Regions from separate parts of the Homo sapiens genome. Here all the other regions are linked to region 3. The links come from fine-mapping of genetic effects on gene expression. A gene starts in region 3. Each other region holds a variant in brackets. All regions are shown on one strand. Distances are between the middles of the regions.

Region 1 (8,110 bases), 190 kb after region 3:
AATCATTGTTGGAGATTTCATTATAATTTTCTCAGTAGTGATAGAACAAAGAAGCAAAAAAATCAGTAAGTATATAGGAGATTTGATCTAATTGACAGCTAACAAAGAGGGGACTATGTATAAAATACACACACATACAAATGCACACACACCTAACAAAGGTAATTGTTCTGAAAATGTAAATCTTCCTGAACATCAAACAGGGGATCAGTAGTCCAGAGATTGGCAATAGTAACCACTACTAACCCTAGGACTTGAGGAACAAATGAGGAAGTCATCTTACTGATGTCCAGGAACTGGGGCAACTGGTAGAAGCTGGATCCTCCAAGGATCTGTTCAACGAGAGCTGAAGTCACAGAGAAGACTCAGTTGCTGCCTGAGACAGAGAAGGGATGAGATTTGCACTTTTACCTATTCTCCAGTATCCCACTAGTGCCATTTGCTAAACCCAATTGAAAGCTGATTGATAAGGTGGTACCTGGGAAATGGAACTGCAGGGATCATCCTTCCTGCAACACAGAGAAGAGCGTAGAGAAGGGCATAACATGGATGTGGGAGAAAAGAGGCAAATGATCAACACACTGTATACAGTGACTTGTCCTTCATCCTAAGAGCAATGGGGAGTCATTAAAGGGTCTTAAGCAGGAAGTCACAATCTAATAGGCATTTTTTATATCTGCAGTACTAAGATTGCAATAGATGGTCATGAGGGCAGTTATAAGACCTTTGCATTTGTCTAGGCAGAGATTGTGGTGACTTAGACCAAAGTCACAGGAGAGGAGGGAAGTAGGCTGATTTGAAACACATTTAAAAGTTAGGCTTGAGAGAACAAGACACTGATGTCCCATGAGGGAGTCAAGGATGGCACCCAGGTTTCCATTATGAAAAACAGGGGAAACTGGAAGAGTCATTTGCTGAGATGGAAAAAACAAGGAGGAACATATTTACAAGAAAGATGGTAACTTCAGTTTTGATGCAAGTCATCAAAATGGTGGAGTTCAAAGAACAACTGATTATGTGGACCTGGAGCTCAGGAGTAGGATCTGAATGGGGACACACATTTTGGAAGCCATCAGCACATGCCTGGTATCTGAAACTAAGGGAATGAATGAGATCACCTGAAAAGATTGGGTATAGTCAGAAGGGGTCTAGGTATAAAGATATACTAATATTTAAAGAACAGATAAAAGAGAAGTAAAACAAAAGCATCAGAAAGAAGTCAACGGAGATGTCAGAGGAAAATATGTCAAGGAGAATATGACGCCAAGAAAGAGAGTATCTCAAAAAGAAGGAGCATTCTACCTGTGAAATGTAATTACAAAATCAAGGAGATCAGAGCTAAGACATGGCCTTAGTGAGTACTATTTCCCGAGAGGCTGAAGAGAAACTCAACTGAATTGTGAGATGAGGAAATAAAAGCATGAACAACTAGTATAAATTTGCTTGGGAAATGGAAGTGACAAATAAGGCAGTAGTTAGGGATGGGTTTCACTGGACAATAGGAAGCCATTATAAATTTTTGAGCAAGATAATTATACAATGAAAGCAAGACTTTGAAAATGTAATTTTCACCAGATTGTGAGAACATATGGGGTAGCAAATATATATTCACACCCCCAAGTTTCATTACTCTGAGTGCCTACTGCTTTGATTTACAGGGAATGCCAACATTAAAAGACTCTTCTTACTCAAGTATATCCAAGGGTCCCCAAGGATGCTAAAATGAACTCATCCTGGTCATCACTTGCTACCATCCCCATCAGAAGTACCCACTCACGGCCAAGCTGTTGGCCCCACCAGGTCCAAGCTGGTGCCATTTAAATCTCCTTGTTCTCACCAGCCGGTCTTGGTTTTGAAGGTTGCAACTACCAGTGGTGCTGCCAGAAAAGCGCCCACATCACTGGTGCTGCTGCCAGAAAGGATGGAACTTGCAGCCCATCAGGGGCAGGGACCTGGTTAAACTGGTCATTTGTGCTGAGGTCTAATGGACAGGCAGAGACTTTCCTACCAAACAAGAACAACTTTCTCTCTCTCACACTCAGTGTTATGTTTACTAAGAATAGTTGCCAGACACTAAGTGTTGTCTGTTGGTCAGGAAGTTCTTTATGCACTTTAACTCATCTAATTTTAACAACAACCCTCTGAGGTACACATAGGATTTTTGTCTTCCCATTTTACAGCTGAGGAAACTGAAACATGGAGAAGTGACATACTTGACCAAGGTCATAAATCTAATAGGGAGAGGGGCAAGGTACATATGCAGGCAGGTCTGCTGTAGACGCCAAGTTCGTAACCACCACTCTGTACTGCCACTTGGACTTTGTGCTAACACTGCCCCTACCGCCTGCCAGACTCTTCTTCCTCTTGTAGTATATTTCCTTCTTGTCCCTTTTTCTGAAATTTGGCCACAGATTCTACTCCAGCTCATCAGAAATATTTTTATAGCTAGTTTTATGGTACAGACAAATGGTCTCAATCCCTTAGTCCCATGCAAATTAGCAGGTACAAATAGACTGTAGAAGGGAAGGTGGCTAATTCTACTCACCAGCAACACTTAGGCCCCAAATTAGCCAGGATGTAAGTATATCCAGGAATCAGAGTGGCCTGTTATCTAACTCCTCCTACCAGGAACAGAAGGACCAGGACTCCTACAGAACCAAATGTCCTATTAGCCAAATATCCATCTGGCCAAGGTGTGTTGGAGGAACCGGAGTCTCTCTCCTCATCCATGTAAGAATATCACTAGTGTGTCTGCTATTTTGCCTGCTAACCAAGAGCAGAAAGTTTTAGGTCCATAGTAATCCTGTTATATTTACCTTTTCTCTTTATAGAGATATTTCAAGAACAAGGATCCATTCCCTGCCTAGCTATGGCTTAGAAAATCTTAAGAAGCTGAGGGCCAGGTCGACTTACAACTTAAAAAAGCTGCCTACTCTGGAAAAGCTTGTCGCCCTCATGGAAGCCAGCCTCACCTATCCCAGCCATTGCTGTGCCTTTGCAAACTGGAGACGGCAAATGTGAGTCCATCCTTTAAGCCCTGCTCAGGCATTTCCCCAATGTAGAACTTTGTCCACAATTTCTACCTATCTGTGACATGAAGAGAATCTACTTGCAGAGAGTTCCCTGTCTCAAGCCCTTTGGCACATTCTGGGTCAAAAATTCAGTTCATGGAGAGTGAGGAATAGTTGAACTCTTTCATTTCTTTGAAAGTGGGCTCACAGGAGAGGGCTACCCATGTGGCAGAACATATACCAAGTACTAAATGAGAAAACATGAAAAATACTAAGCATAGTGCCTCAGAGTTGGTGCATAATATCTGTTCCCTCTTTCCTTTGTACCATTATAGATTTAATCCTTCAAGTCCCAAACTGTGCACCTGATAAATGCCCCATCCGTGTCATCTTTGGTGGGGAGATGCATAAATGCCATGCCAGAGACTGATGTACATATCTGCCGCACATCCCAATCACTCTAAGCCTCTCTAATCCACCTTGGGATCTTCCTACCTCACAGGGAGGATAAAGATTAAGACATCTCATTACTTTGGCTTTCAAAGAAAGCCGGGTTCAAGGAAGCCCAGACTTAAAGAGGGCCATCTAAACAGAGACAAGTCTTAGTAGCTAACTGGTTAAAAAAGTGAGGTAATCATAGACAGGATCTGGAAAGAGTAAAGAGAAAGTCGCCTTGGAGATTGTACACATGTTCCAGACATTTAAATGATCCATTGGAGGTAAGAACTTACTGAGTATCAGAGTTCTCAAAGCTCTCACGCTCCTCTGAGCTCACCTACATAAGCCACACCATGTAGTTGCACTCATCAAATGATGTCTTTTCATTACTCTTATATACTAGCCTAGAACTAATACAGCTTTCCTATGATATTATTTCTCTGTTTAACACAGTCTCCTCCATTATTCAACCTTTAACATACATTGACCAGTCCATGTGGACATATTCCTTGCTCCAAAGCAAAACAAAAAGAGCAACAAAACAGTACCCACCCTAAAATGTTTTTCAGAGTAGCTGGAAGTCCCTACTCAGACCCTTTTGGAGGATTTGTAGAAAAATAGCTGTTTTTCAGAATCTGCATGCATCATTGGGATATTATCCAGAATGGGCACTCTTCATAGATCAGCTCAAGAGCCAGGAAATTTCTTCCTGACAATCAGAATTCTTAAGGTCCTGGGCTGAAGCAGTGGCTTGCCTCTTTTATATTCCAGATAAGAATTATTCTATCCAGAGTGAGAAAGATACCAATTTTGCACCAAGTCCATGGGACTGAATACCCCAAAGGAGAAATAAAGAACATTAAGATTGGCCAGGCAAGGTGGCTGACACCCATAA[C/T]CCCAGCACTTTGGGAGGCCAAGGCGGAATAACTCCTTGAGCCCAGGAGTTTGAGACCAGCCTGGGTAACATGGTGGGACCTCGTCTCTACAAAAAAAATGAACAAAATTAGCCATGTGTGGTGGCGCATGCCTGTAGTCCCACCTACTCGGGAGGCTAAAGTGGGAGGATTACTTGAGCCCAGGAGGTCGAGGCTGCAGTGAGCTATAATTGTGCCACTGTACTTCAGCCTGGGCAGCAGAGTGAGACCCTGTCTTTAAAAAAAGAAGAAAATGTTAAGATCACTGTGAGAGCAGCTTGCAGTGTGCTATTTGGCCCAGTTCCAACACACCCCAAGAATTTGTTGTCTCATCGTGTTACTCAGACTCCTCTAGACATAGCCTCAAGGCTCTCCCAACCAGAATCTCCACATCTACCTTATATTGTCACAGGACATGAGGTCTTCTCTGATCCCTCCAGACCACTCGGCTCTCATCCCTCTAGGTTGCTGCTCTAACTTACCATCCAGGCCTGTTGGGGTATAGCAAGGGAGAGGAACATGGTTCTTACACTACATGCCAAAATGGAGTAACAAAAATTGTGATAGGTGGTTTTCATTTTTTATTTTTAGCAATGGGTATTTGATTTTCATATTTATCAAATTCACACACAAACAACACAAAATAATTGTTATTCAGAAGATAATTTCAGATTTATTCCTTCAATAGTGACATTTCATTGTATATCATAGTAGATGTGGTTTGGTAGCGGGATTCAAGTTTTAACTTGTATGATGAAATTCTTCTTTTGATCCTCATTTGGAAATAATGCCCAGAGTGTAAACATGAGGCCCCTGTGACTAAAACTTTGGCCAGTGGTCCTCCTGGACTCTTCCTGGGCTCTTCCCAAAAGTTCGTATCAACTACAGTCTTCATTTGTCATTGAACCTGATATTTCCTTGTCATAATTCTGTATTCATTTTGCATTACTTTGCTCTCATTTTATTCTTCAATTTTTAATGTTAAATACAATAAAAATTGTGTTTCTTCACAACTCAATGTTGTGAAGGCCATTTCTTCACAATTCAATATTAAATTGACATGCTGTTGCATATGCTTCTAAGTACCCACACAGGGCCTAGACCTCAAGAATTCCATAAGTAACCACCATCATTTGTCTTCATACTGCTGACATTTGCCAAGTATTCACTACCAAGCACTGTAATACTCTGTATCTTTATTTCATTTAATTCCCACAATGGTAATATCATTATTATTCCTTTCTCACAGAGACAGAAACTAAGGCTCAGAGATACTAAATAACTTGACCTACACTGACCAAACAGATCCAAATCTGGTCTGCCTGCCTCCAAAGCTTAGGCTCTGCGACACTGCTATGCCACCCCCAAGCATCTGTTCACTGACTGATCAGAGTCCAAGAGTGCCACTTTTTCAACTGACCCTAAACTGAATTCCCAACTCCTTATGATAATTAGGATTTTCCAAAGTACTGCGGAGGCAAGACTTGATGTCCTTTGGTTTCCACTTTTGTTTCTGTTCTTATCTCAGAGACATAAGTTATTTACTTTTCTCCTTACTTCATGTCAGTGGGTCACTTCAGTTTCAGAAAAAGAGAAGCACAATATTTAAAATATATGGACAGCAGTATCAACAATAAGAACCTTCACAGACAGCGACCATAAGCCATAGGAAGTGAAGGCTGTTTCTAGAGAGTTAAGTCAGAGCTCAGTCCAATGAACCAAACTGCAGTCAGCAAGTACCAGGTTACTTACTTTCTCTTCCTGGAATCAGGCTGCAACTAATTCAGTAACAGGGTTTAAGAGTCTAGAGTTAGACTAAGGACCACAGGATACCCCTCTTCTCCCCTCTATACCCATTATGGAGCTTGCCTCACCTTTCTTGGAAGACCATTGACTAAACCAGAACATTTTCTGGGCTCCGTTTCCATTCACTTTCAATTCTGTGTATGTTAATCATTTAGCCTTAAAAAAACAAACAAACAAAAAGAATCCCTTAGGCCAAGAGAAAATGACTTCCTGGCAATTCAATTCACTTCCCAGGGGTGAGAGAAGAGAGGAGAGCACTCTTCCTAACAGACCCTTCTCATCCAGGTTGATGGGGCAAGGTTCAGTCCCTGTATAATAGGTTGGAACACCTGGCAAGACTCATCCTTTAGCATCAAATGGAGTCTTTACCTCCTCCACTCCCCTAGCCACCTTTTTCCTTCTTAAGAAGGTTTGATACTTACTTCGCCACTTATATCTGAGGTTATGTCAAGGTTTAAAAAAAATACAGTCAACTTAATATTGCTGTGAACTTGCCCCTTGGGGAAGGAGGGAAAGGTATGCATGTGTATGTACAATTTTTTTTTTTTTTTTGCATCCAAAAAGGTCCTAACGTAAGGCTTATTCCCATTCCACAAGCCTTTGCTTCCAAACAGAAGTATTACCTTTCTTGTTTCTACATCCAGAGTATTGATATACTACTCTGGGGTAGAATATTTATGGGTATACTCGTGGATTGAATATTTATCACCTGGATTTCATTCAAATCCCTCTGTAAGTACCTCTATCCTGTTGACAAGGCCCCTTGTACATTTGGGTTTAAAGGCAAAACCAAGACAGTAAAGTGAGCCCAAGGAGAGCTAGGCTGCCCAGAGGATGAGTTCCATTCTTAGAATAAATTAGGTCCTTTTGCAGCTTGCATTGTTCTTTGGGGCACTCACTAGGAAACTGTTCAATATGAGAGAGCCAGGCTTACCTTGCAGACAAGCACATGCTGAGGCCTATTGTGGCCCCCAGAAAGTGAGATAATAAAGAACAGGAAAGACCCTGGTAACATTTCCGGCAAATTAGCTGGCCTCCTAATAGCCTGAGTACCAAAGAGCCAGGGAATAGGGGCTGGCTGGGAACTAACTACAGATTTTGATCCCCTAATTTATGTAGATAAGAGAAGCAAATAAGTTCTCATTTGAGTCAGCGAACAGTCTGGATCTTCCAGTGATTTGAGTGTAGACGAATAGGAATATGTCCTACTCAGGTGTATTAAGAGATAGCTGGATCAAGATGGGAGAAGGAAAAGGGTCGAGTTGATGCCAGCTCTGTAAATTATTTTCACTTAACAGCAAGGCTTAGTCTCAGGTGCCTTCCTCCCCACATTCAGGTTGTGGCAAGATGGTTTCCCCAGTGAGCCATCCAACTCTAGTAATATATATACAAGTTGTTATATTCATTTACAGTAAGCAGCATTAACCCTTGAGGTTAGCCTCAAGGGCAGGTATGATGTGAGAAGAAAAAAAAAAAATCTCAGGAAGAAACTCATCATTTCTACCCTGCACAAAGACAGTGATGTATTTGCTATACTGGATCTGAGATGTTGATTCTATTTCTTTTTGTATTTTTCTAGCTCTGAGCTTCATCCAATTTGCAACAAATCTATTTTAAGGCAAGAAGTTGATTATATGACTCAGGCTAGGGGTCAGAGATCCTCTCTGGCAGAAGACAATGAGTCCAGCTACAGCAGAGGATTTGACATGACGTACACTGAGTTTGACTATGACTTATGCAATGAAGTGGTTGACGTGACCTGCTCCCCTAAGCCAGATGCATTCAACCCATGTGAAGATATCATGGGGTACAACATCCTCAGAGTCCTGATATGGTTTATCAGCATCCTGGCCATCACTGGGAACATCATAGTGCTAGTGATCCTAACTACCAGCCAATATAAACTCACAGTCCCCAGGTTCCTTATGTGCAACCTGGCCT
Region 2 (8,110 bases), 380 kb after region 3:
TGGACTTGTGAATTAGTTTGCACACACACACACACACACACACACACTGCTTACTAACATGAACAACCTGCTTCAAGGGTCTGATGGCTCATTCTTATTCTTTGTGATCCCTGCTGACTCTTCTCCAAAGCCCAAGAAACTTAAACTCTTAGGTCAGATGGATGGCTCTTTTATTTATTTACTTATTTTTTTAGATACCCAATTATCTTTTATTGAGGCCTCTCTGGGGTAGGTCAAATAAGCCTTCCTCACTGGAAGGCTTATTTATTGGTGCTGCTTCCTGAGTCCTGGGGATTCATCACATCAGGCAGCATGGGTGGGCTGAAGAAGGGCTCGATGTGCAGGGCCTCATAGGTGTCTCTGACCCGACCCAGAAATCCAGCCCCACTGCAGCTGTGGCCTGTGGCTGGGGAAGCCAAACTCATGCATCGTCTTGCCATCACCAGGAGCTGGTCACCCTTGTACAGCCGTTGCTAATCAGGCAGCCATTTCAGGATATCTTCAACAGCATGGTGCTGGACTCCTTGATGTCCGTGAAGACGGTGGTCATGGCCCCAGCCCAGCCCTACTCTTTTTTAATAACAGCTTTATTGAGACCTAATTCACACATCATACAATTCACCCTTTTAAAATGTATAATTTGGTGGGTTTTAGTATATTCACAGAGTTCTACGACCATTACCAATATGTAATTTTAGAACATTTTCATCACCCTAAAAAGAAACCCCACACACATAGGCAATCACTACCCATTTCTCCCTCCCCCAGCCCCTGACAACTACTAACCTACTTTTTGTCTCTATGGATTTGCCTATTCTGAACATTTCACAAAAATATAAAAATTCAACATATGTCCTTTTGCAACTAGCTTCTCTCGTTTAGCATAATGTTTTAAAGGTTCATCTATTCTGGAGCATGTATCAGTACTTCATTCCTTTTTATTGAAAAATGATGTTCCATTACATGAATATACTACATACTGTTCATCCATTTGTCATCTGATAGACATTTGGGTTGTTTCTACTTTTAGCTATTATAAATAATGCTCCCGTGAACATTCATGTACAAGTTGGTGCCCAACTCTTTAGGCATTTGAATCTTTCCTGGCTGTGCTCCTGGGCAGATAAATGGACCTGCAATAACACGTCTCTTTTAGGCTCCCCTAGCACTTTCTTCTCCATTCTGTACTTTTTCAAGAAAACAGGTTGATACTCTTTGCTGGTCTCCCTGCCTCTAAGCTCTCTCCAAGTCTAGTTCTCCACACATTTTGACATCAGGTATATTTTTATTGGAATTGATCTTTATGGCATCAATTCCATGCTCAAGAGCTTTGGCTAACACTCAAAGCCTAGAAGCCCCTGTCTCTTCACACCACCAATCCCTACCTTCATTCAATCTCTGTTTATCAGGAGTCACCTTGCAAATCTCTCTGCTATCTTATGCCCACCTCATCATTTATCCATCAAACATTACTGAATTCCTAGGCACGGTGCTGGGTACTGGAGGCATCAAGAGATGACTGAAAAAGATCCCTAGCCTTGAGTTCATTTTCTGGATCCGAATGGAGTAGGGAGGGTTGGTGGTATTGGAAAGGGTGAGTAGACATGTTAACGGAGAACAAATAAGCAATATGCAGAAATGGACTATTGGTCCAGTCCTGTTGGTGACTCATCCAACCCTCTTAGAATCTTTTTCTAACTCCAGATGAAGTTTTTGATAAAACTTTTTTGGCACAGGATTTTTATAACTGAAATTTTGTGAACTCTTTTTTTATTTTATTTGCACAAGAATACAAAAAAAAAAAAAGAGTAAGCAAGTAAGCAAGCTCCATTTGCCCCAGGCAATGCTGAGGCTAGAAAGTGGGAGGCATTCTCAGATTGCCCTGAACAGTCACATCTGTATGTCGTCAGGATTATCAAAATTGCCATGACAATGACCCAAAGGTTCTTCCTCAGATAAACCCTGCAAATACTCAGCAGATTTCAGCCAGACTCAACTGCATGCCCTTGAGGTTTGCAGTTTGCATGCTGTAAAAAAGCTGGAAGTGGGGGTGGGAGGGTGGAAGGAGGAGGTAGGATGTGAAGCAAAGGGCAAGAGGCCAGCTGAGGCTGCACAACCTTGGAATAATGTTTAGCTCAAATATGAAGAGAGCTCACTTGACATCCTGACTTTGTCTTTCTTTAGAAATGCTGAGGTAGATCTGTAAGCAGCTTCAGGTCAAACTGTTAAGTGTCTAAAAGTCTCAGAACTCTTCCCCATCTATTGACCAGAGGAGGATGGACCTGTGAAGAGGGAAGGTACGTGTAGTGTTTTATTCCCCAGAGAGTCTTCCTCAGACCCTATACCTAGGGCTTGGCCCCTTGACAAACTCTGATATCATTACATTTAGTCTTCAGAGTCCTGGCCTCCAGTTTCTTGACTCTCCTAGCCTCATTTTCAGACCTGATTCAAATGGAGACCTGTTCCTCTCATTGGATGAACACACTTAGGCCCAGAAAGTGAAGAGACTAGATACTCTTCAGCTGGGGATGCTGTAGATGAAATACTTTCATCAAAAGAAGGTTGGATAAGATGATCCCTAATTTTATTCCAATCAAAGGTTCTACAATTCTAAGATTTACCCAAAGGGACCCAGCTATTTTGAGGCAAAGTTTGGACCAGATCCCCGGTCTCTCCCCTCCCAATCCAGAAGCCACTGGAGAATGAGCCCCAGTACATCTTTGATGATGAGCTTATCACCAATTTGGATTTTTAGCTCAGATCTTAAACATCTGTTAAGTACCATGTAGACATTATCTTCACAGTTTTCATGAGAAGGAGGAGTGCATGGAGGGATGAAAGGGGAACAGAGCAAGAAGACATGCAGAACTCCCTTTTTACAACTGATATTTTCCTTAAAAGCTGAAAACACAATCACATTCTGCAAACCAAATTCCATTTTCAAATGAAAGTTCAACTGCCCTATAAATGGATATTACTGTGAATTTTTATAAAGGGGGCAATCCTATCATTGTAAAGCAAATGACCACTCCTTAATGTATTAATGTAGGATATTTAGATGTTTGTGTTTGGTTTTGATTAAAGCTCTGCCCATATTCTTGTAGCCATTTTACCATAAAACTAAGACAGTAAAACCAAGCTCCAAAAAGACCTCATGTCTTGTCCAAGAACGCCCTAAGACTAACTCCACACTATCATGACTCAAATCCCTTCCCTAGTCACCCAGTTTCACAGCCTAGATCTCTAAGGAACTAAGGGACTTGATCTGATCTCTTCAGTTTGCCCACATCAGATCCGAGAGCTCCAAGTTGGGCATACCTCGAGATTTTTTTTTAAGCAAGGCTTTCAAACAACCTTGTGCTGGAAACTGGCATGGAAGCAGAGGCTCATGTCCCTGACATACAAAGTCACTCTGAATTCCCCTAATTCCACAGCAATTCTCTGCCTACTGGGTCTTATTGCTTAACAGGAACATAAGCTCCTCTGACATTGACCTGGACAAGTGCTGCATATTTGGGAAGACGAGGAAAAGGCAAGCACAAAACATCTTTGAGCACGTTACCCACCTGCTTGATTTCTGCAGGCTGTTCCAGTGGCCTGACTCCCCACTCTGGATGGGGAACTCTTGAGACCACAGGCTCACAAAGCATGGGCTCCCTGGGAAGTGGTGAGCTGCAGAAATAAACTGCTCCTTTCCTTAAAACAATCAGCCGGTGACTCAGCCTGTAATCCCAGCACTTTGGGAGGCCGAGGCAGGCGGATCACGAGGTCAGGAGATTGAGACCATCCTGGCTAACACGGTGAAACCCCGTCTCTACTAAAAATACAAAAAAAATTATCCGGGCGTGGTGGCGGGCGCCTGTAGTCCCAACTACTCGGGAGGCTGAGGCAGGAGAATGGCGTGAACCCGGGAGGCGGAGCTTGCAGTGAGCCGAGATCGTGCCACTGCACTCCAGCCTGGGCGACAGAACGAGACTCCATCTCAAAAATAAAAAATAAAAAAATTTAAAAAAATTCAGCCCTGCAAACTCACTCTTAGTAAAACAAAAGACATTAAATTCTTACTGTTTTTCTTTTTTCTCTCAATTCCCTTTAATATGATAGCAGCTGAACTCACTGCTCATTGACCAGGCCATTCATTTACCAATTAGGTACAGGTAGTAGCTCGCTTTTGTCGTTTGTTTGTTTTTCTTTTTTTCTTTCCTTTTTTTTTTTTTTTTTTTTTTTTTGGAGATGGAGTCTCGCTTTGTCCCTCAGGCTGAAGTGCAGTGGCACGATCTTGGCTCACTGCAACCTCCGCCTTCCGAGTTCATGCCATTCTCCTGCCTCAGCCTCCCGAGTAGCTGGGATTATAGGCGCCCGCAGGTGGTAGCTCTTAAGTTGCTATCAGACCCTGATGGATTACCCCTTGTAAGAAATTAACCTCCTCCTACCTATTTGAATATTCTGTCTCCAAGCAGGCTACGTGTTCTCAGAAGACTGAGGCAGGGCCATATGTCTTTGCTTTACCCACAAAAAGTCTTGCTAATAATGTTCGGAGTAGAGATGGCACTCAATAAACTCATTAATCTACGGATGATAATTTTTAAGTGCCTACAACCATTATGAATCTCAGTCTACAAACTGGGATATGCCAAAACAATTCTTCTTCTTTATTTTTATTAAATCAAATTAATTTCCATTTTGAGTTCACATGCTCCTAGACTTGCAGGAATTTCAATGTCAGGCATTTACAGGAGTCTTCTTTCTCCTCAAGGTCTCCCTAGAATCCAGGGGGCTTCCATGGTGCTCAGAAAATTAGGATTAGGGCCTCTATCTTCTTGTCCATC[G/A]TAGTCATTGCTGCCCATGACGAACCCTGGTATCTCCCTGCTGATAAAAAAGATATATATACCATTGAGAACACAGGGACCTAAGGTTAGGCCTCCCTAGGTTCACCATTCGCCCCCTCTCAGAAATCTTGCTACGTTAACTAAACACATTAAAGAGGGGACATAGCGTCCTCCCACACCAAAAAAGAACACAGTACTATTACCAAATGAAGAGGATACTGGGTAGGCAAGACAACCAATGCCTATCACAAACAGAAGAGAGCATTCCAGGTAACAAGTTGCCAGGAGAAGAGCAAAACATCCTCAGCAATATTAATTATATTTGATGCTTAAAATGAACTTGGAGCATTTGCAGATACAAATACCAATAACTGACTGAAGAAAAGTGATATAAGCATTAAAATAAAGAAATGACCAACCCCACAGAAGACTGTGTGGGAAGAGAAAAGAATGAGCCATATCCTATATAACGAAGATAAATGGGAAAGAAAACTGTGGAACAGATGATAAAGAGGACTGTTTTCTTAGGAATCAAGATTTTCTCAGTTATCTTGAAAGGAGCAACTTGAGATTTATTCAAGAATTCCACTTCAAAACCATATGTCATTGCTGTATAGAAGTATGTCTAGGCTAACAATGTAGTAAAATCTACATACTTCTCATAATAATGTGTGGGTTTAATTATCGTTAACTATTTTTTATGGTCTTCAAAGTGCCTGGTTAAAGAATTCTTCCTATTATTAAATATGGATACCTTAACTAGATATAATTCCAGGAAAGATTCTTAGCACCAAAGTAGGCAAAAACCAGGTAAGCTGTGCTGATTAGAGATGATGTCTCAAGATTCATTTCTCTGTGTGTGTGTGTATACTGCACATGGATTAAGTCTGAAATGCAGAGTTTTAAAAACAAAATAGCTATGTCAGGGCACCATTTCCCAAACTGGTATCCCACAGATTAGCTCTTTAATATTCTGTTTGAGAGAAAAAAAAGGGAATGAAGTTTTATAAGTTAAGGGGAGTAGAAATTAGAGACAGAAGTCTCCTATTAGAAGACCACTGAGGTAGTTCACTGGCCAGGTATTAAAGACTGTGATAAGGAAAATTGATTGTGGGGGCAGGGGAAGGAACAGCTAAGTGAGGCATCCATCCAAGAAGTAAAATCATCAAAAGAGTGTCTATTAATGACCCAAAAACCCAGGAGTCATAACCCTTTGTTCTTAACCATCAGCTTATCTTTCCTCAAGAATAAGTAGTTCAGCAATGACATAGATAAATCTTAAAATAATTATGCTGAGTGAAAGAAGCCAGAAAAAAAGTGCATAATGTATGATTCAAATTATATAAAATTCTAGACTATGCAAACTAATCTCAAGTGAGAGAAAGCAAATCAGTGGTTGATTGGGGCTGGGAAGCTGAGATGGGTGGCCCAAGGAGGGCAGAATTACAAAAGGGCAGGAGGAATCTTTTGGGAGTGATGGATAGATTCATTTTCTTGATTATGGTGATGGTTTTACATGTAGAGATGTCAAAAATCATCAAACTGTACACTTTAAGTATGTACAGGTCATTGTATACCAATTATACCTTTATATCTGATATAGCTGTTGAAAGAAAGTAAAAAGGAATGGAAAGGAAAAGAAAGGAAAGGAAGAAGAAAGAAGGAAGAGGGAAAGAAGGAAGGAAGGAAGGAGGGAAGGAAGGAAGGAAGGAAGGAAGGAAGGAAGGAAGGAAGGAAGGAAGGAAGGAAGGAAGGGGAAGGGAGAAGAATATGTATTTCATTGAATTTTATCTATAGCAGAACTTCTCAACCACAGCACTACTGACATTTTAGACCAGATAATTCTTTGTTGTGGGAAGCGAGCTGTCCTATGCATCTTAGGATGTTTGGCAGCATCCCTGACTCTACCCACCACATGCCAGTAGCACTACCCACCAGCAGTGATGACCAAAGATGACTCCAGATACTGCCAAATATCCCCTTGTCAGTAGAAAAGGAGAGAGAAATGCCCCCAATTGAGAACAATGTGTCTGCAGGGATTTAGCAGGTTACCAGGAGGTTAAGGAAGAGAGTAACCTGAGTTCATGTAAGCCAGGATATCCATTCAAACCTAAAAATTAATGCTGAGGATGGAACAGAGCTGCAAGCTAGATGCAGAGGGAGGGTGCTGGAGGGCTGTGTGGCTTCTGACAGCATGCCATGCCATTCCTCTTCTACAGCAAAGCCAGTGCTGTAGAAAAGGAGGATGAAACTGCAGCAAAGCAAAACTCAAAGGAAAAGAGAGAAGTATTTAAATAATAACTTGAATTTGTTTATATTTCCCAGAGTACTTTTAGTCACATTATCTTACAGGGTTTTTACAAAGTCCATGTGAGGAGGAGGGGGTAGATATTGCTCTCCTCATTTTTCAGATGTGGAAACTAAAACCTACAAGGAGTATCCATCAGCCTCTGAGTTACTAGGTGTCTGAGCACACTGTTAGACTTCTGAGCCTCACCAGTAAAGGAGGGTCAGATAATCCCTCACCATGTTAGATCTTCCAGATAAAAGTTCTGAAGGGATGTGATTAAGAATTCTTAATCTCGGACGGCAATCCAACAAGAAACAAGCTGTAACACTGCAAGTAAGGAATTTAGGAAGTTTGGCTTAAAGAAGTATTTCTAGGGTGAGTTTTGTCAGAAAAAAGAATGTATGATTGAGGGATATTGAAGAACATCCTCTTCTAGTGCTTAAAAATAGGAGATACTTACTTCATTGGAATGATTTAAAGTCACTGATGGAGGGTAGGAGGGTAAACAGAAGACCATGCCCAGCCCCGTAATTCCTTGCACCAATAAAAGGAAGGGAGATCATTCAGAAGTGAGGGATGGAAGATCATTTGAATTGAGAATCTAGATTCAACTTTGGCATGAGTAAGAAGGGGCTACATTTCAAGTGTACCCAGCCACTCCTTCCTGCACCCTTTGTCCTTCAGAGATATTAACACTCTCCATTTAGAAAGACATAATCATTTACATGTAGTGAGAAGATCATGATGCCTCTCCTCAAACAAAGAAAACATTGCTCCCCAGAAAAAGAATCTCAGGCCTGTGAAGGAGGTAGAGAGATATTTGGCAAAGGGGCCTTCATGAACCACACCAATATTACAGTTGGAAGTTAGTTAGTTATCAGAATGTAGTGACTATCCGTGTATGTGTGTGTGTGTGTGTGTGTGTGTGTGTGTGTGTACAATGCAATGATATTTTGATGGCCATGCTTGCATTTAGGAGTGTCTTTCTTCT
Region 3 (8,110 bases):
CATTCTCTGACCATTATGCAATTAAGTTGGAGGTCAGTAACAAAAAAAGATAAATTTAAATATTTCTGAAGTTTGTAAGTTTCAAAACCACACCTCTCAATTATCTATGTGCCAAAGAAGAAATTGTAATGGGAAATTGAGAAATATTTAAAAATAAATTGTAATGAAAGATCTACCTATCAATACTTGTAGAAGAGGGCCAAGGCAGAAATCACAGAAAAATTTACAGCTTTAGTATATTATTAGAAAGGAAGAAAGGCTGAAAACTAATAATCTGACATATAAATAAAACGTTTTAGAAAGGAACAACAAAAAAGGAAAAAATAAGCGCAAAAATCATGGAAACAAAACATAAAGATAGAATTGGATCAGCAAAGGGTAAAGGCAAAAGTTCGTTCTTTGAAAGAACAAGAAAAATAAAGAGAATTTTGGAAAGGTTGATTAATGAAAAGAAACTAGACAGAAATAAACAAGACTAGAAATTGTTTAGAATAGATTTAAAAAGAGAATACTAAAAATCTTTGTGACAGTAAATTTTAAAACTTAACTAAAATAAAAAATTCCTAGAAAAAATATAATTTAATAAATTTAAGAAGAAATAGAAAGCCTGAATCATCTAATAACAATTAAAGAAGTTGAATCAATATGTTTAAATTTTCATACATACACTGACACACACAAACATGCACACAGACACACATATATACACACAAATATGAACCGAGGCTCAAATGGTTTTTTAGGCAAATACAGGCATACTTTAAAGGAATAGATTACTTTAATCTGAAACAGTTTTTTTTTCCCTAAGAATAAAATGAGGGGGATTATACCCCAATTCAGACTATAAGGCAAACGTAACAATGCCACCAAACTATACAAGGACAACATGAGAAAGAAAACTTAGGAATTAATTATGCACTAAAAATTACTCATAATTAAGTTACAAATAACTTACGAACATAGATGCAAAATTTCTAAATAAAGTATTAGGAAATGTGTAGTTTAATAGCATATAATCATTATTGTAGCCCAGGGGTGGTGGCTCACACCCATAATCCCAGAACTTTGGGAGGCCAAGGTGGGCAGATCACCTGAGGTCAGGAGTTCGAGACCAGCCTGGCCAACATGGTAAAACCTGTCTCTACTAAAAATACAAACATTAGCTGGGCATGGTGGTGGGTGCCTGTAATCCCAGCTACTCAGGACACTGAGGCAGGAGAATCACTTGAACCCATGAGGCAGAGGTTGCAGTGAGCCGAGGTCACATCAGTGTACTCCACTCTGGGTGACAAGAATGAAACTCCATGTCAAAAACAAAAAAAAAATTATTATTGTAAAGAAAGAGTAGAAAGAGAGGAAGAAGGAGAGAGAGAAGAAAAGGAAGTTGGAGTCAGGGAAGAAAAGGAGGAAGGGAGGAAGGAATTGAAAAGAAAGAAACTCTCTACACATACACACACACATACACAGAATTATTTAGATATGGATAATTGTTTGCATAGAAAATGTAATAAGTGGCTGGGCATGGTGGCTCACGCCTGTAATCCCAGCACTTTGGGAGGCCGAGGCAGGTGGATCATGAGGTCAGGAGATCGAGACCATCCTGGCTAACACGGTGAAGCCCCGCCTCTACTAAAAAATACAAAAAATTAGCCAGGCGTGGTGGCGGGCACCTGTAGTTCCAGCTACTCAGGAGGCTGAGGCAGGAGAATGGCATGAACCTAGGAGGCAGAGCTTGCAGTGAGCCAATATCGAGCCACTGCACTCCAGCCTGGGTGACAGAGCAAGAGTCTGTCTCAAAAAAAAAAAAAAAAAAAAAGAAAATGTAATAAGGTAATTTAGATATAAGATAAATATTCCAAAATTAACTGCATTTTTACAGTATGACAACAAACATAAAATGTGACTTTAAATATTGATTTCATTTATAACAGCATAAAACAGGATGTCATCAGGAAACACATTTAAGATATTAGGACATATATGGAAGAAAGTATAAAGCTTTATTTAAAGACATCAAAGAAGGGCTTAAATAACATGGTGCTATACCATATTCATGGATAAGAAGACTTGTTATCTTAAAGGTGATAATTTCTGCCCAAATTAATCTATATAATCAATATAATTCCAAACAAAATTATACCAGGGTGTTTTCAAGGAGTGTAATAATCTGATTCTAAAATTTATTCATAGGTCCAAAATAGGCAAGATACTCCTATAGGAAATAAGATAGAAGTGTTTTCTTACTGTATATCAAGGCTTACTTTAAAGTTGTAGTAATTAAGACAGTATAACATTGGTGTAATGTAGAAAAAAGAATAGTGGAATATAAAAAAGCTTAGACACAAACCCATGCAAAATAGTTACTTGAGATATGAGAAAGGTAGTTTTACAAGTGAGAAAAGAAAAGAGGGACCATTCAATAAATGGTTTTGGGACAAATGTTTATCCATGTGGATAAAACCATTATGCCATCAGATAAAAAACAAATTGAGTCCTTTACTCACACCCATAAATCTCAATGCCAAATAGATCAAAGGCCAAAATGTACAGAGCAAAACTAAAAAATTTTAGAGAAGATATAAAATAATATTTTCACAACCTCAGGATTTTAAAAATTACAGGAGAATGAAAACATAAATTATGGTATATTTATGCAATGGAATATCATACAGTAGTATAATATTAATAAACTACAGGTATACCTAACAGGTACAAAATTAATAAACTGCAGGTACACATAACAACATGGTTATTTCTTTAAAATGTCTAGTTAGTGTAAAATAGTAAGCAGCAAAATACTACTAAAAGACTGATAGACTTTGTAAAAATGTAAAAACACGCAAGAAATTAAATAATATATTCCTTGGAGATACATTTTGTGACAAGATTAATTTTACAAAACAAATGAAATAATAACCACAAAATTCAGATTAATGGTCACCTTGGGCATAGGAACACAAGAAGGTAATAAAGGAAAATCAACTAAGTAGATGCAACAGGACTGGCTATGTCCTTTATTCTCCAGCCCGCAATTGTTTGTTGCATTATTATGCTTAATAAATTACATTTATGTTACCTATAAGTTGTGAATACGACATAGCATTTAAAATAAAAATCTCAATTTTAAAAAGATTTCTGCTTATTATACTAAGACTAATTACAGAGCTCTCCAAAAGCTAGAAGGGGACTTATGGGGCAGAGGAATTGGGTAAAAGGTTTAATTGGTAGTGAGTTTCTTGTCACTGGAGTTATTCAAGTACAGATGAGAAAATCCGTTTAAATTAATATGAATACTTAAACTTAAGCATTAGTTGGTTGATTGAATTAACTTCCTTCTACATCTGAAAGACTATAATTCCTTGGATCAGTTGTTGAACAAACTAATTTAACCATTCATGTTAGCCAATTTGTTAAAAATATGAAGTCCATATAGATACTGCCTTTGTCTGCCAATTCCAGAATTAGAATAAACCAGTTGCTCCCAGAAAAAATCTAGGGATCAACTTTGCCCCCCAAATCACTTGCTTCTGTTTTTTTCTTAATAATTTAATCATTCTTTACATGGTTTTCCTTGGTAAGGCAGGGGAGAGGGAAGGAGGGGTGGGATAAGTAGGTATTTTTAACATTTTCATGAAGCTCAATTTTATGCAACTAATTATCTAAAGATAGTATTGAAACTAATTTTAGCAGGTAATAAGTTGTGGGCAGGATCTTAGAGAATATTCTGCCTTTTAATCTTCATAGATTCTACAATTGAAAGTAGAAAGCCACTTTTCTAAAAGTGTTGCCAAACGTTCCTCAGATCCCTCACCATCGAGGAGGGGAATGCCAACAAAAGTGCTGGGCTGTCACCTCAGGGAACTTTTAAAAGTAAGTTAAAAGCGTAGATTAAATAAATTCATTTATGCCAATTGCCAAAAGGCAAGGGCAATCTTCAGAGCCTGGAAATGCGAGAAGGCAGGCAGGATATGCACGAGGGGGTGGATGTGCTGGCATTTACTAAATCCCCACTGGAAACATAGCACATTTCTTAGATCACTCAGTTCAGTCAATTATCGCTACAGATAACCCTATCAGAAGTACCTCCCACCTACGGAAATCTGCCTAAGGTTTGCTAACCCACCTGCCTGTTTCTGAATAGTGCCATTTTTGGCATAATTACAGCAAAAAAAGAGGATCATTGAATGCAACCCAGAAGGGCTGGTTTTCTCTCAGGTGGGCTGGTTGAAGAAATTGATGCTGAAGACTGAAGGTCCCAGCCCTTCACTTATTAGTACCCCTCTTAGTGATGTGTCATATTGTGGGTTGTGTCTTTTTTGGAGAAAGTCAATCATGTCACTCTGTTGAGAAGAGAATGGTGAACAGCAAGGAGACTTTTGCAATGAAATAATGCAAACTATTCCAGACATGCCTAATGGTTCTATTTGCTGTGTGCCTTAGGTCAGGGTGTAAGAAACCCAATCTTGAAGGAAAACAGAGTAGCTTATCTTGCCTGGAAGTAACAAAAAAAAAAAAAAAAAGCATCCCTTGGTGGGTCACATGACCCTACCAGTTCTCAAGTCAGATCTCTTCTCATAAGGGCACTGTGTGGAGCTTCTGAGATCTGTGGAGGTTTTTCTCTGCAAATGCAGGAAGAAATCAGGTGGATGGATGCATAATTATGGCCCTGCTCCTGGTCTCTTTGCTGGCATTCCTGAGCTTGGGCTCAGGATGTCATCATCGGATCTGTCACTGCTCTAACAGGGTTTTTCTCTGCCAAGAGAGCAAGGTGACAGAGATTCCTTCTGACCTCCCGAGGAATGCCATTGAACTGTGAGTATCAGAGGGAGGGGGAACAACTGCATGGCTGGCATTTGTGCATTGCGTACTATTATTATTTTTACATTAGGCTGATATCTGTTAGACTGAAATATTTCTGCCCCTTGACCGAAGTCCTGAATAAAACAACTAACTCCCCAGCCCAACCCTCCTGCCTGTGGCTTTCCAAGAATCTTAGATGAGAGTTTGTATCAGCATTTGTCAGAGAACGGCAGTGTCAGAGAACCGGAATCCAAAGGCAAAGGGAAAAGTTTTGTCTTTTCAATGCATTTGCTCTTGGGTTTCATACTCTCTTTAGTGGAACCAGAAAAGGAAAATGAAGGCAAAGTAGAAACTTAGGAGACCCAGAATTGGAGGCAGAAAGGCAGCTTTGATCTAAGCAGAATACACAAGGTATGTCTCCCGAGGACACTGAATCTAAAAGGCCATAGTCTTTGTCGTTTTGAAGGCAGCAGCAAATAATTCCTGAACTGAGATTCTGCTTTTGGGTGTAAAAAGGAGGTGGTAGAGAAGAGAAAAGGTGTGAAGAAAGAAAGAAAGATAGGAAAGACACAGAGAGAGGGAGAAATACAGGATAATCTTTTACACAACTGGAAAAAAATGTGATTAATAAGTTAGAAATTTACTTAACTATTTTAACAGGAAGTAGACTCCTAGAGTTGGCCAAGAATTTAGACACCATCCTACTCTCTCTTTCTTTTGCAAATTAGGAATCTGGTGTCTGAAGAGTAAAGAGGATTTTCCAAACTCTCGTGATGAGTTGAGATGGAGCCAAAAGTAGAAATCGGGCCTTTTGACTCACAGTCTACTGTTTTGTTTTGTTTTGTTTTGTTTTCCCAACCCACTGTGACTGACTCCATTAGAGCAACAGTGAGGGAAGCCTGAAGTAATTGTTCAGTTACTGCTTCCCCTGAGAACTGGCAAGTTGGGACTCAGGGATTTTAGATACTCTCTGTGTTTTTATTGCAAGGATTTTAAACAGAAGCCTGTTTCAACCTTTGTCACTTAAAGCTGTGGATGATTTGCATTTAATTGAAGAAGGTGGTCATCTCTTTAGTTCACCAATTGCCATATTGACACTGAAACATGTTGGTGTTGCATTTCAGATTTTCACTCAGGGACAATGAGTTGCAGCCTTGCAGACCTGATTGATTCTGTTTGCCACATTTCCCCTTAACATCTCAAGTCTTCAGTCCTTATCCAGAGGCAGCTGCAGAGGCAGGGAAAATAACTGGCCAGCTCTGTGTTTTGGCTACACTGTCTCAGATTAGACAGCTACTCCTGATTATGCTGAAGAATGTGCCCATGCACAAAGACAGTCTGATTTATTAGGTAAATATAAGCACAGGAGAAGGCCAATGTACCTGAGCTCCTATAAGTCATTTGGTCCTAAGTGACTTTCAGTGATTACTTAACCCCTTCTGAGCCTCAAGTTCCTCATTTCTGAAGCCATTTTAGTACAACCTGCTTGGTTGAATTGTTGTGAACACTAAAAGATATAGATGACCCCTACACCCTAATTTCCACCTCTCCTGGACCTACTCCACTTTTTCCAATGTTTCCATGTGGGTCAAGCAGTGTCATCCAGTTGATAAAACAAACAGACCCAAACAAGTTTTAATTTTAGGGTGATTTCACACTAGCCTGTCTGCTTTCTGAAATCTCCTTATCAGAAGAGAGATTTTCTTTTTTCATTCTGCAGAGAAAACATAGGCCAAAAAAGAGAAAAGATGGAGGGAAAAAGGGAAAAAGAGAAAGAAAAGAAAGAGGAAAGAAAAGAAAATCCACCCCCACACCCTAAAGCTTCAGGGAGTATATTTGTATGAATTACTATGAGAGGATATGAATTTTTGAAAAAAAGTAATGCTAAGGTATAAATGACTAAAACACATCTCTGGCCAAGAGCATTTTGCAACTAAGGAAAGAGAGCATGAGATGTTGAGATAGTATGGAAAGAGACTGTGTGAGAGAGTGTGATGAACAGAGCACCAGAAACAAATTTCACATTCTTGACAAAGGCTAGCTCTAGGTCAATTCCTTACTTCAGTGTACGTATTAGAGGACAAAGTTGCATAAAACTAAGAAAAGGAAAGAAAGTTCCTGCCAGGTGTTAGGATTTTCCTCCACCTAAGGAATGAGTATAGTTAAGAGCTTTAGAAGCTCTCTCAAATACCCAGTCTTAAGAAGATTCTGTCTTCTGCACACTCATTGGTAGGGCTTGACTTGGACCATCTTAGAGTTTGGCTTTGCAATCTTCTTGGAAAGGTGTACTGAGGTGAGAAGAGAAATGTTGCTTTGTCTATTAGATTTTAAAAAAGGAAAATTATTTCAGGTCAGTGTGTTAATCACTGAAGAGTAGATAAAATGTCAAGTGAATTACAACTCACATACTGTTAGAATGAGAGAGCAATTACCTTTATTTTTGCTTCCTTAAAAAGACTGAATCAAGGTTATCTAAGTAAATGGCAGAACAGGGATGAAATGGACTGTTCAACTAAGTATCTCTAATTCACCTTACAATCTTCCAAGTTTGCGTATTAACTTTAATGATTACATGAGGTGTAGGTGGATGGATTATTGGACTTCATTGACTGCAATTGCTTAATCCATCAACATGTCAAAGCTTCATTGTTACTCAGGCTCACCGGGTGGAAAACAATTCCTACATTTTACTATGTACATTTTTATCCTATCATTCCATTCACCTTGCAGCAGTTTCATTTCATTTGATACATCTGCCAGCTATCACGAAAGATTGCTAATTTCCTATGATCTGCACATGCTGATATTAATGCTAAAAGAACAGAAGCACCATCAACAGGCAAGTAGATTTCATTTACTAAGGGGCTCCTACTATTTGCTTTATGCAGTATGTTTTGTACATACTACTTCATTAAAACTTCACCAAAAACTGCAAGTTTGGAATTATTGCTCTGTTTTTCAAATAAGACAAACCAAAGCACAAAAAAGTTGAGTAGCTCTGGCAATTATCCCTGCAGCTCCTGGATGGCAGAGCTGGGATCCAAATTTGAATCTTTTATATCTCCTCTGCATGCCATGTGAAATGAACATCATCTGACTCTATACCTTTCTTATTCTGAAAAAAAAAAAAAAAAAAGAGTAATCCTTTACATTTTAAACCAGAAGTCAGCTTTATGGGCTATACCACTTCTTGCAACTACTCACTTCTATCACAGTAGCAGAAAAGCAGCCATAAACAACATGTAAATTAATGAACATGGACATGTTCCAAGAAAACTTTATTTATGAACACAGAAATTTGAATTTCATA
Region 4 (8,110 bases), 560 kb after region 3:
GCAAAACCCAGAGTCTAATGATGCTGTGCCTTTCTTCCCCAGGAAGTCTCACGGAAATGAACTGAAATATTTTAAAACTTGGGGCAATTAATCTAATCAGTTTTCCTTTTCCTTACAGAGGAAAATGATTACATTCCTTACAGATGATTTTAAAGGCACAATATTATCTGTAGCTTGTATCTATGGATTTTTGTAATTCAACTATTTGCTTCTTGACTAGCAACTCTGTCTTGCTTTAAAAATTAGTCAAATTCATATTTCATTGCCATTTCTAAGCAGGATAACAAAAAGTGCTTGTATCATATGACCTAGGGAAATATGTGGATAATTAGATTGAGCCCGTGAAATTCCCATCAAGAAAGGTAAATATTGGCGATTACATATGATTCAACAGAATACACATAACCCTGTGTTTTAGGGCCCTGGCTAAGGGTATAAGTTCCTTGGAATACAGTAGTTGCAGAGGATGGGGAGGGTCTAGGAGAGACAACATCAAAATCTACCCTGTGTCTACACAAAAGCGGTGGGACAGTCTAGCCAGAGTTGAGACAAAACAGGGAAGAATTGATTGATGGGATTTTGAGGACTGTTGTTACAAATATGGTCAGTTTTTGCCAGTCAATCCTTTTGCTGTTCCTGAAGAACTAGGGCCAAGCCTTGTGAGTGCTAGCAGTGGCTAAAATGGTGCTTCATGCTCTGTCTTCTATGAAGTACTGATGCCTTTTTGAAATATTAACTTTAGTAGCTCAATAAAAATTTAATTTCAACACAAGGCAGATTTCTTATAAAAAGGAGGGTGGAGAGGTTGTTAGGTTCGTCCTTTATAAGCACTGATTCCCTTCATATCTCCTACAGCCTCCCTCCACTCCCGCACAACTCTCCTCCACTCTCCCCCAACTCCCTACCACCCACACGTATATCTTACCTGATATATATTCTGTGCAATTTTGTAAAACTGGTTTTCTAAACTTTAAAAATGTGGCTTTTAGGTGCACATTAATTCTACAGGACTACTCTACAAGTTGCCAAAGGTTGAAAATTCCATGGAATTCTGTGGACAAAGTTTTTCCTGTTTTCAAGGAAAAATTGTGAAAGGCTTTGAATAGTGGTAATCTTATGCATGTATTCATTTCATATATTTCTTTTTTTTTTTTTTTTTTTTTTTTTGAGATGGAGTCTCACTCTGTTGCCCAGACTGGAGTGCAGTGGCGCAATCTCTGCTCACTGCAAGCTCCGCCTCCCGGGTTCACACCATTCTCCTGCCTCAGCCTCCCCAGTAGCTGGGACTATAGGCGCCCGCCACCACGCCCAACTAATTTTTTTTTTTTTTTTTTTTTTTTTTTTGTATTTTTAGTAGAGACGGGGTTTCACCGTGTTAGCCAGTATGGTCTTGATCTTCTGACCTCATGATCCACCCGCTTCAGCCTCCCAAAGAGCTGGGATTACAGGCGTGAGCCACCACACCCAGCCTCATATCTTTGTGAGTCATGATTATACCCTATTTTTAAAATCATCCTTTATAACATTATCAACTATACTTTGATGATGTCATTTTTCCAGGATATGCAAAGAGGTCATGGTCACTGACTCCTTAAGAGTGGAGCCTGACATATGCCTGACAGAGGGTCAATTGTTTAAGGTTATTGAAATTGATTTCATACCTTAAGAAAAAAAAATAGCCCCAGGTCTTGCAGAAGAAGATATAAATTCACAGCACAGTAAGAATAGTTTGAAATACATTTTTAATTTTTGAAAAATCAATATGTAATCTACAAAATATTTTGTTACATGATTAAGGCTCAACCTGTCTTATATTTGCATTGACAGAATACAAAACTGTATTTTAAGTAAGACATTATAATAGTCATTGTTAAGGAAGTCCTTCTAACTGACTTTATAAGAAAAGGGGCTGTATCACAAGCATAGCTCTGGAATGAAGGGAACTAACATCCTAGAACTGTCTAATATATACATCAGGTTGTAAAATTCCAGCCTTTATTTATGTGCTGGAAAGTATCTTTTTTACATATCTTTTTTTAGTGGATAAACTCTTGTGATTCCCACAGAAAAAGGAAATGTTCTTAAATTCAGATCTGCACAAATCATCTACCCATGAATTCATTTACACAGTTAATATGATCCTGTAACTGGAAAGGTGACCAGACTAGTCACAAACTGGTCAACTCCTTGGAAGTCTGCTCATTTGACTCCAAAATGGTCAAACTCACAATGGAGTGATCTAAGCAAAATGAATGCTAGAAAGGAATATTTCCTCCCTCATTCCTTTCCTTCCCCGCTTCCCTCCCCTAAAAGCAAGGGTTTTTTGAAGATCACTATTCCGGCAAGGGCAGTTCTACTTAATTTGAACCCTACCTGATTTTTCACCTAGAGTTCTGTAGTCACATCTGACCTTCTGCCAGTTCTGAGGTCAGAAGAATTGAATAAGCCTCCCCTCCCTACACAGAATGTTAATTTAACATTAAGTAATGAATATTTAAGGATCCTAATAGATGTGCGAATTAACAATTATGCTGTAACACCCTGCTGTTAATGCTATCAGCTTCTGCATTGCCACAGACAATCCATTTGGGCTTTAGTCCAGCTTTTGCTATTATATTGTCAAGACTGAATCTTGAGATGTCCTGAAGGCCCGGTGGCTTGTGAGTGAATAACCTGGGCAGGGAGGTACCCACAGATACTAGTCAACCTGTGAAGCATGAGGGGCAACTAAGTGAACCCTTTGCTGAATATATTTTGAGGTGTAAATAGTCATTAAGTTCATCCTAATCAGACTGTGAGTTCTTTGTGGGCAGGATGCCATAAAACACACTTAGAAAGGAATGGCAGTAATTAACCCACCTAACTTCACTGGGACTGTGGGCAGCATCAGTTTCGGCCGGCCTCCACATTCGTTCTGAGCAGACTGAAGTCACTGTAGAGTGCGCCCACACCAGATGATAAAGAAAGATGGTAGAATTTTTTTAATGACATACACACACAGATTTGCCCTACTCTACATCAACAGTGAGCCTCAAGCATATGATATTATAAGCAAGGCATCAAATGAAGTTAAAAAGAGCAATAGCGGCCGGGCATGGTGGCTCACGCATTTAATCCCAGAACTTTGGGAGGCCGAGGCTGGTGGATCACCTGAGGTCAGGAGTTCGAGACTAGCCCGGCCAACATGGGGAAACTCCGTCTGTAGTAAAAATACAAAAGAATTTTAGCCAGGCATGGTGGCTTGTGCCTGTAATCCCAGCTAGTTGGAGGCTGAGGCAGGAGAATCCCTTGAACCCAGGAGGCGGAGGTTGCAGTGAGCCAAGATGACACACTGCACTCCAGGCTGGGCAACAGAGTGAGACTCTGTCTCAAAAAAAGTAAAAAATAAAAACAGCAATAACAATTCCTTTCAACCAACCATCACCTATTGCATTCTTTGCCTTTACAGTAAAATAATGAAAAGCAATAAAATCTGCTGATTGATACAGACCATCATAAATGTTTGTCTTAATCTGTTTTTGAACAGATTTCAATGAATGTAATATAATATTAAATATTAAAAAAAACACATGAAATAAACTCTGTAGGCCAACACATAAATGTTGTTTGGAAGAACACTAAATCAGTTTTGACTCAAAACAAATCTAGCAAATAGAGAAAAATATCTCCTAATTATGTTTAAGACTCAACATAAATTGAAGGTATATTAATACCACATGGGGGAGTTTGTTTTTCAGACTAAAAACAATACCTGGAATATAGATTTCATAAATTTTAAAATTCTCACTTTTCACTGTAAATGCTGAAAGGAAATTATAAACAGAATTATAACTGCTAATGCTATTGACTTTTCATTAGAAACCAAACTATTATAGTCATTTACCTGACTCTGAAGAATAAAAATGTTGCCACTTAGAAATCTGGGTAAAATACCAAGTATCTTTCACTTTGCTCACCTTTTAATGAAAAATACTCTAAAATAAGCAGAATTAGCATAAAACAGCATGATAGCAGAACTAGTATAAAATAATCATAATGTGATTTAGACTTCTACTCAAGAGAGGCTTGTGTTCATTACAAATAATACTTTATCAAAATATGTCCTTAGAGTCTGTACTTTTGGAAAATAGTATTTATAAATTTTAAAAATTCATATTTAATATACACAAATATGTTAACTAGTGTCTAATACTCAGATTCCATTTTGAAAGGAATCCTGCCAAGTGAAAGGAAATATGTCTTAGTGATTTATACTAAAATATGTAGGACAACAGAAATAGCTTCTTTGCAGCACGCGCCAGAAAACAAACACATTTTGAAAATGACAATACAGTAGGAGAGAGACAGGTACCAAATATAGCCAATTATTATTTACCAACGGTAAGAGGACAGGTAAATAAGTAATTCAAAAGCACAGATACTTCCAGATCTACATTTTAGCCTGTGGTTTCAACATCATTCTACACCTAGCCACATTTCAGAGGCAAGAAAGAGGGAAAATTAACTATTTTGGTTTATGTCTCCTTTGATTCCCTTACCCTCTAGTACAGACACTAAGCAGCAAGAAGAGATGGGAAGAAATGAAGACGGCACCTCAGTAATCCAGAGAGCAAAACAGTCAGCCACTGAGTAATCAAAAATCATACTGGCTGCGGGGTCACACAACGAGTAACAGTGCCTTTGAGTTTCAATAGGAAGCAAAACATCACACGAATTATAGAAACATTTTAGATCGAACCCCTAGGACAAAAACACATGAAAAGCAAAAAATACAGATTGTTCGGTTTTAGGTCTAAACTTCTCTAAACACAGCCATCAGACCTGTCCTAAAACCGCTATTCAGAAGTCATTTCCACTCTACAGTAGCAGGACTTGGTGTGGTTTCGGTGAATTACATATTTGACAAGTGGGCTGTCATCATAAACTCTTGCTACTCCTACTGAGTTATGCAGTCACCAATTTTATCTGGGTCTTCTCCATCGATTTTAATCCACTT[C/T]TTTTCTATTTCAACCTGTTATGCAAAAGCAAAACACAGGCAGCATTAACAAATGCAACACAGCACTCACACCTCTTCAGTCCTATTTTATACATGTGGCACAGACTGCACAAACCTCACCCTTTGGACACAGACACAGCCCTCTACCCTCCTACAGTAGCTTCCAAGTGAGGCGCTCTGCTCTCCTTTTGAACAACAGAGCCCCTCAAATCCTCCCCGCCAGGGTCAAGTCTTCAAGAGCACCAAAACTGTCTTCTAAGTCAAACGTAGTTTTTATAAAATGTATACAGAATATGTATACTGAAAAAAAATTTACAGATCTGACTAGACATATGATCAATTATCCCTCTACCTGAATATATGGCTGTATCATGTATCTAGCCATTGGCCCCCTTAAGATTTATAATGCACCCAAAATTATCTAATTGAAACAAGCCATCTTACAAACTATTAGGTTGCTGCAAAACTAATGGCAAAAACCGTGATTACTTTTGCAGCAACCTAATAGTAAACCATCTGCTCTTCATCATTTTTGTCTCAGCTCAAATGTCACATCCTCCTGGAGGTCCTCCAGGACTACCCCTGATAAAGCCCTCCAGTCACTCTCTATCCCGTTACCCTATTTTATTACCTTCTTGGAATTTGTTATTAGTTGAAATCATATTTATTTATTTATTTATCTACTAACTATTTTTCGTTTACCCCCACTAGAAACTATGCTCCATGAGGACAGGGACTTTGTCTCTCTGTTCACACTGCTGTGTCCCTGCATGTGGAGCAGTATCTGGCAACAGATAATTACTAAATGGAAGAAAACATTTTGAAACTGCCACCAGGTGCACATCAACTAGTAAATGCTACTAAAGCAAGAGATACTTTGTAAAGTAATTTTTAATTGTCCACTAAAATTGCATGAACCTGGCATGCCCTGTGAATAGGAAAATAAGTATAAACACAGTCTCCATGCCACTTGACCCACATTTCAGTCACACATAATATATATATACCTAGTGTTATAGGTCAGGTTCCCCAAGAAATAAACTCTGAGATGGAGATCTGTGTGCAGAAAGTTTACTGGAGAGTGCCGTTGAGTTCAACATTCATGGGGGAGTGAGGCAGGAAATGAAGCTAAATGGGCAGAGAGAGAAGCTGGGATGCAATGTAGTCAGAATGAAGGCTTCTGTCCATGCCCTGGAGAGCTGAAGCTGGGCTGACCTACAGCGTTAGCCCAAGTTGATGCAAAGGGGCCTATACACCCCTGCATAGATTCCAGGAAGGAGGCATGACCTCAGGAAAGGCAGCTATCTTCAGCGGCGGCAATTCCCACCTGCTGGGGAAATACATCCTTCAGGTCTGAAGGGGCTGCACAGGACAGCACTACCTATCATTACTTTTATCAGTAGAAAAAGATAACTGGACCCAAACATAGACTTCTAAACAGATAGTCCAAAATAAAGAAAAATCCTGACTCACATTACTATAGTATAGGAAACCCAGTTGATATTAGCGATGTCATGTATAATATCACTATTTTTAATAGAAATAAATTAGTAGAAAATCAGAATGGCATTAATCTTTGCTGCAAGTCAAGCAACACATAGATTTTAAAATGCTATTTGAGAGGCACATGTTCTCAGGACCTCCTGAGGGCTGTGTAACAGGCAAAATTTAAATTTTTAAAAATAAAATAAATGCTATTAGAAATTATAAAATGTTGCTCATGTGAAAGACAGAAGGGAAACATACATTCTAAACTGAACCACCTGTCTGTAATGCACTATTTAATTTTTGTGATTTTTGAAATATTTTCTAGTTAAAAATACTTTTAGGCCAGGTGTGGTGGCTCACACCTCTAATCCCAGCACTTTGGGAGGCCGAGGCAGACAGATCACAAGGTCAGGAGTTCGAGACCAGCCTGGCCAACATGGTGAAACCCCATCTCTACTATAAACACAAAAAATTAGCCAGGCGTGGTGGCAGGCACCTGTAATCCCAGCTACTCGGGAGGCTGAGGCAGGAGAATTACTTGAACCTAGGAAGCGGAGGTTGCAGTGAGCCGAGACCATGCCACTGCACTCCAACCTGGGCAACAGAGCAAGACTCTGTCTCAAAATAAAGAAAACCTTTTAAACAAAATCAGCAAGATGCATCACCATTTCAAGATACTGTGGGAAATATGTGGCAGGAGACATCCATATATCTACTAAACTTGAGGATAAGAAGGGAAAACAAGTTTAGAAACAGATGTAAGTGTATGTCCTCCTTTAGTTCATCTGCCTAAGAATGCAGAAGAGCTGATGGCAAACATTTAAAACTACCATAATACCAGGCTGGATACGGTGGCTCACGCTTGTAATCCCAGCACTTTGGGAGGCCGAGGCAGGAGGATCACTTGAGACCAGGAATTTGAGACCAGCCTGACCAACATAGTGAGATCCCATCTCTATTTAAAAATTTAAAATAAAACTTTAAGCTACCAATAGGCTAGGCATGGTGGCTTACGCCTGTAATCCCAGCACTTGGGGAGGCCGAGAGGGTCAGATTACCTAAGGTCGGGAGTTTGAGACCAGCCTGGCCAACATGGCAAAACCCCATCTCTACTAAAAATAGAATAATAATAATAATAATAATAATAATAATAATAATAGCTGGGTGTGGTGGTGGGTGGCTGTAATCCCAGTTACTTGAGAGGCTGAGGCAGGAGAATCGCTTGGACCCAGGAGGCGGAGGTTGCAGTGAGCCAAGATAATGCCACTGCACTCCAGCCTGGGTGACAGAGTGAGATGCCGTCTTAAAAAAAAAAAAACTGAAAACTACCATAATAGAGTAACTCAGCATTTCCTAAAGCATGCTCCACAGAACACTATTCCACAAGATAGGGATAAGTGTTTTACATACACATACCCACAAAGACAAGACACAATAGCCAATGAGTTGGGAAAAACTGGGTTAACTAAGTTTAACAAGTTTCCTTATTGCAGGACTTCTTGGGAGCCTTTATTTAACATTAATTTAGTATACGGCATTCCCCAACTTATTCTTTTGTTGGATAATTATATGGGACACATGTTCTGCAGCACATATTTTGAGAAATGGTGTCCTAACATCATAATT

Alleles and levels. Alleles are on the strand shown, and positions count from the first base shown. SD is a standard deviation of normalised expression in the study named. Not every link is listed here.
For the expression in testis of the gene that starts at base 4,563 in region 3, T is the high allele of the variant in region 1 and C is the other (small effect, 0.31 SD a copy in GTEx).
With allele T in place of C in region 4, the expression in gastroesophageal junction of the gene that starts at base 4,563 in region 3 is higher (large effect, 0.82 SD a copy in GTEx).

The links. PIP is the estimated chance that this variant, and not a neighbour inherited with it, causes the effect.
Region 1: its variant is fine-mapped to the expression of FSHR in testis (GTEx, PIP above 0.99).
Region 2: its variant is fine-mapped to the expression of FSHR in esophagus muscle (GTEx, PIP above 0.99). The same link has a PIP of 0.9 or more in gastroesophageal junction, sigmoid colon, stomach and transverse colon.
Region 4: its variant is fine-mapped to the expression of FSHR in gastroesophageal junction (GTEx, PIP above 0.99). The same link has a PIP of 0.9 or more in coronary artery, esophagus muscle, ileum, sigmoid colon, stomach and transverse colon.

The regions. Positions count from the first base shown.
Region 1 is chr2:48,963,605-48,971,714 of GRCh38, reverse strand. It overlaps FSHR (follicle stimulating hormone receptor), which reads left to right. Exons shown (of 10, transcript NM_000145.4): 9 at 2,832-3,017; 10 at 7,749-8,110. Among named protein-coding and RNA genes, the nearest start is that of MIR548BA, 92 kb to the left of the region's middle. The variant C/T (reference allele first, on the strand shown) is at 4,345.
Region 2 is chr2:48,773,039-48,781,148 of GRCh38, reverse strand. It overlaps STON1-GTF2A1L (STON1-GTF2A1L readthrough), which reads right to left. Exons shown (of 11, transcript NM_001198593.2): 11 at 4,630-4,869. The coding sequence ends at 4,834. LOC105374594 (a long non-coding RNA gene) reads right to left here and starts at 3,784. Exons shown (of 4, transcript XR_001739460.2): 1 at 3,567-3,784. It also overlaps the pseudogene ELOBP3. The variant G/A (reference allele first, on the strand shown) is at 4,830.
Region 3 is chr2:49,150,968-49,159,077 of GRCh38, reverse strand. It overlaps FSHR (follicle stimulating hormone receptor), which reads left to right and starts at 4,563. Exons shown (of 10, transcript NM_000145.4): 1 at 4,563-4,812. The coding sequence starts at 4,661.
Region 4 is chr2:48,592,129-48,600,238 of GRCh38, reverse strand. All of the region lies in intron 3 of STON1-GTF2A1L (STON1-GTF2A1L readthrough), which reads right to left. It overlaps STON1 (stonin 1), which reads right to left. Exons shown (of 4, transcript NM_006873.4): 4 at 1,726-5,011. The coding sequence ends at 4,937. Among named protein-coding and RNA genes, the nearest start is that of GTF2A1L, 22 kb to the left of the region's middle. The variant C/T (reference allele first, on the strand shown) is at 4,997.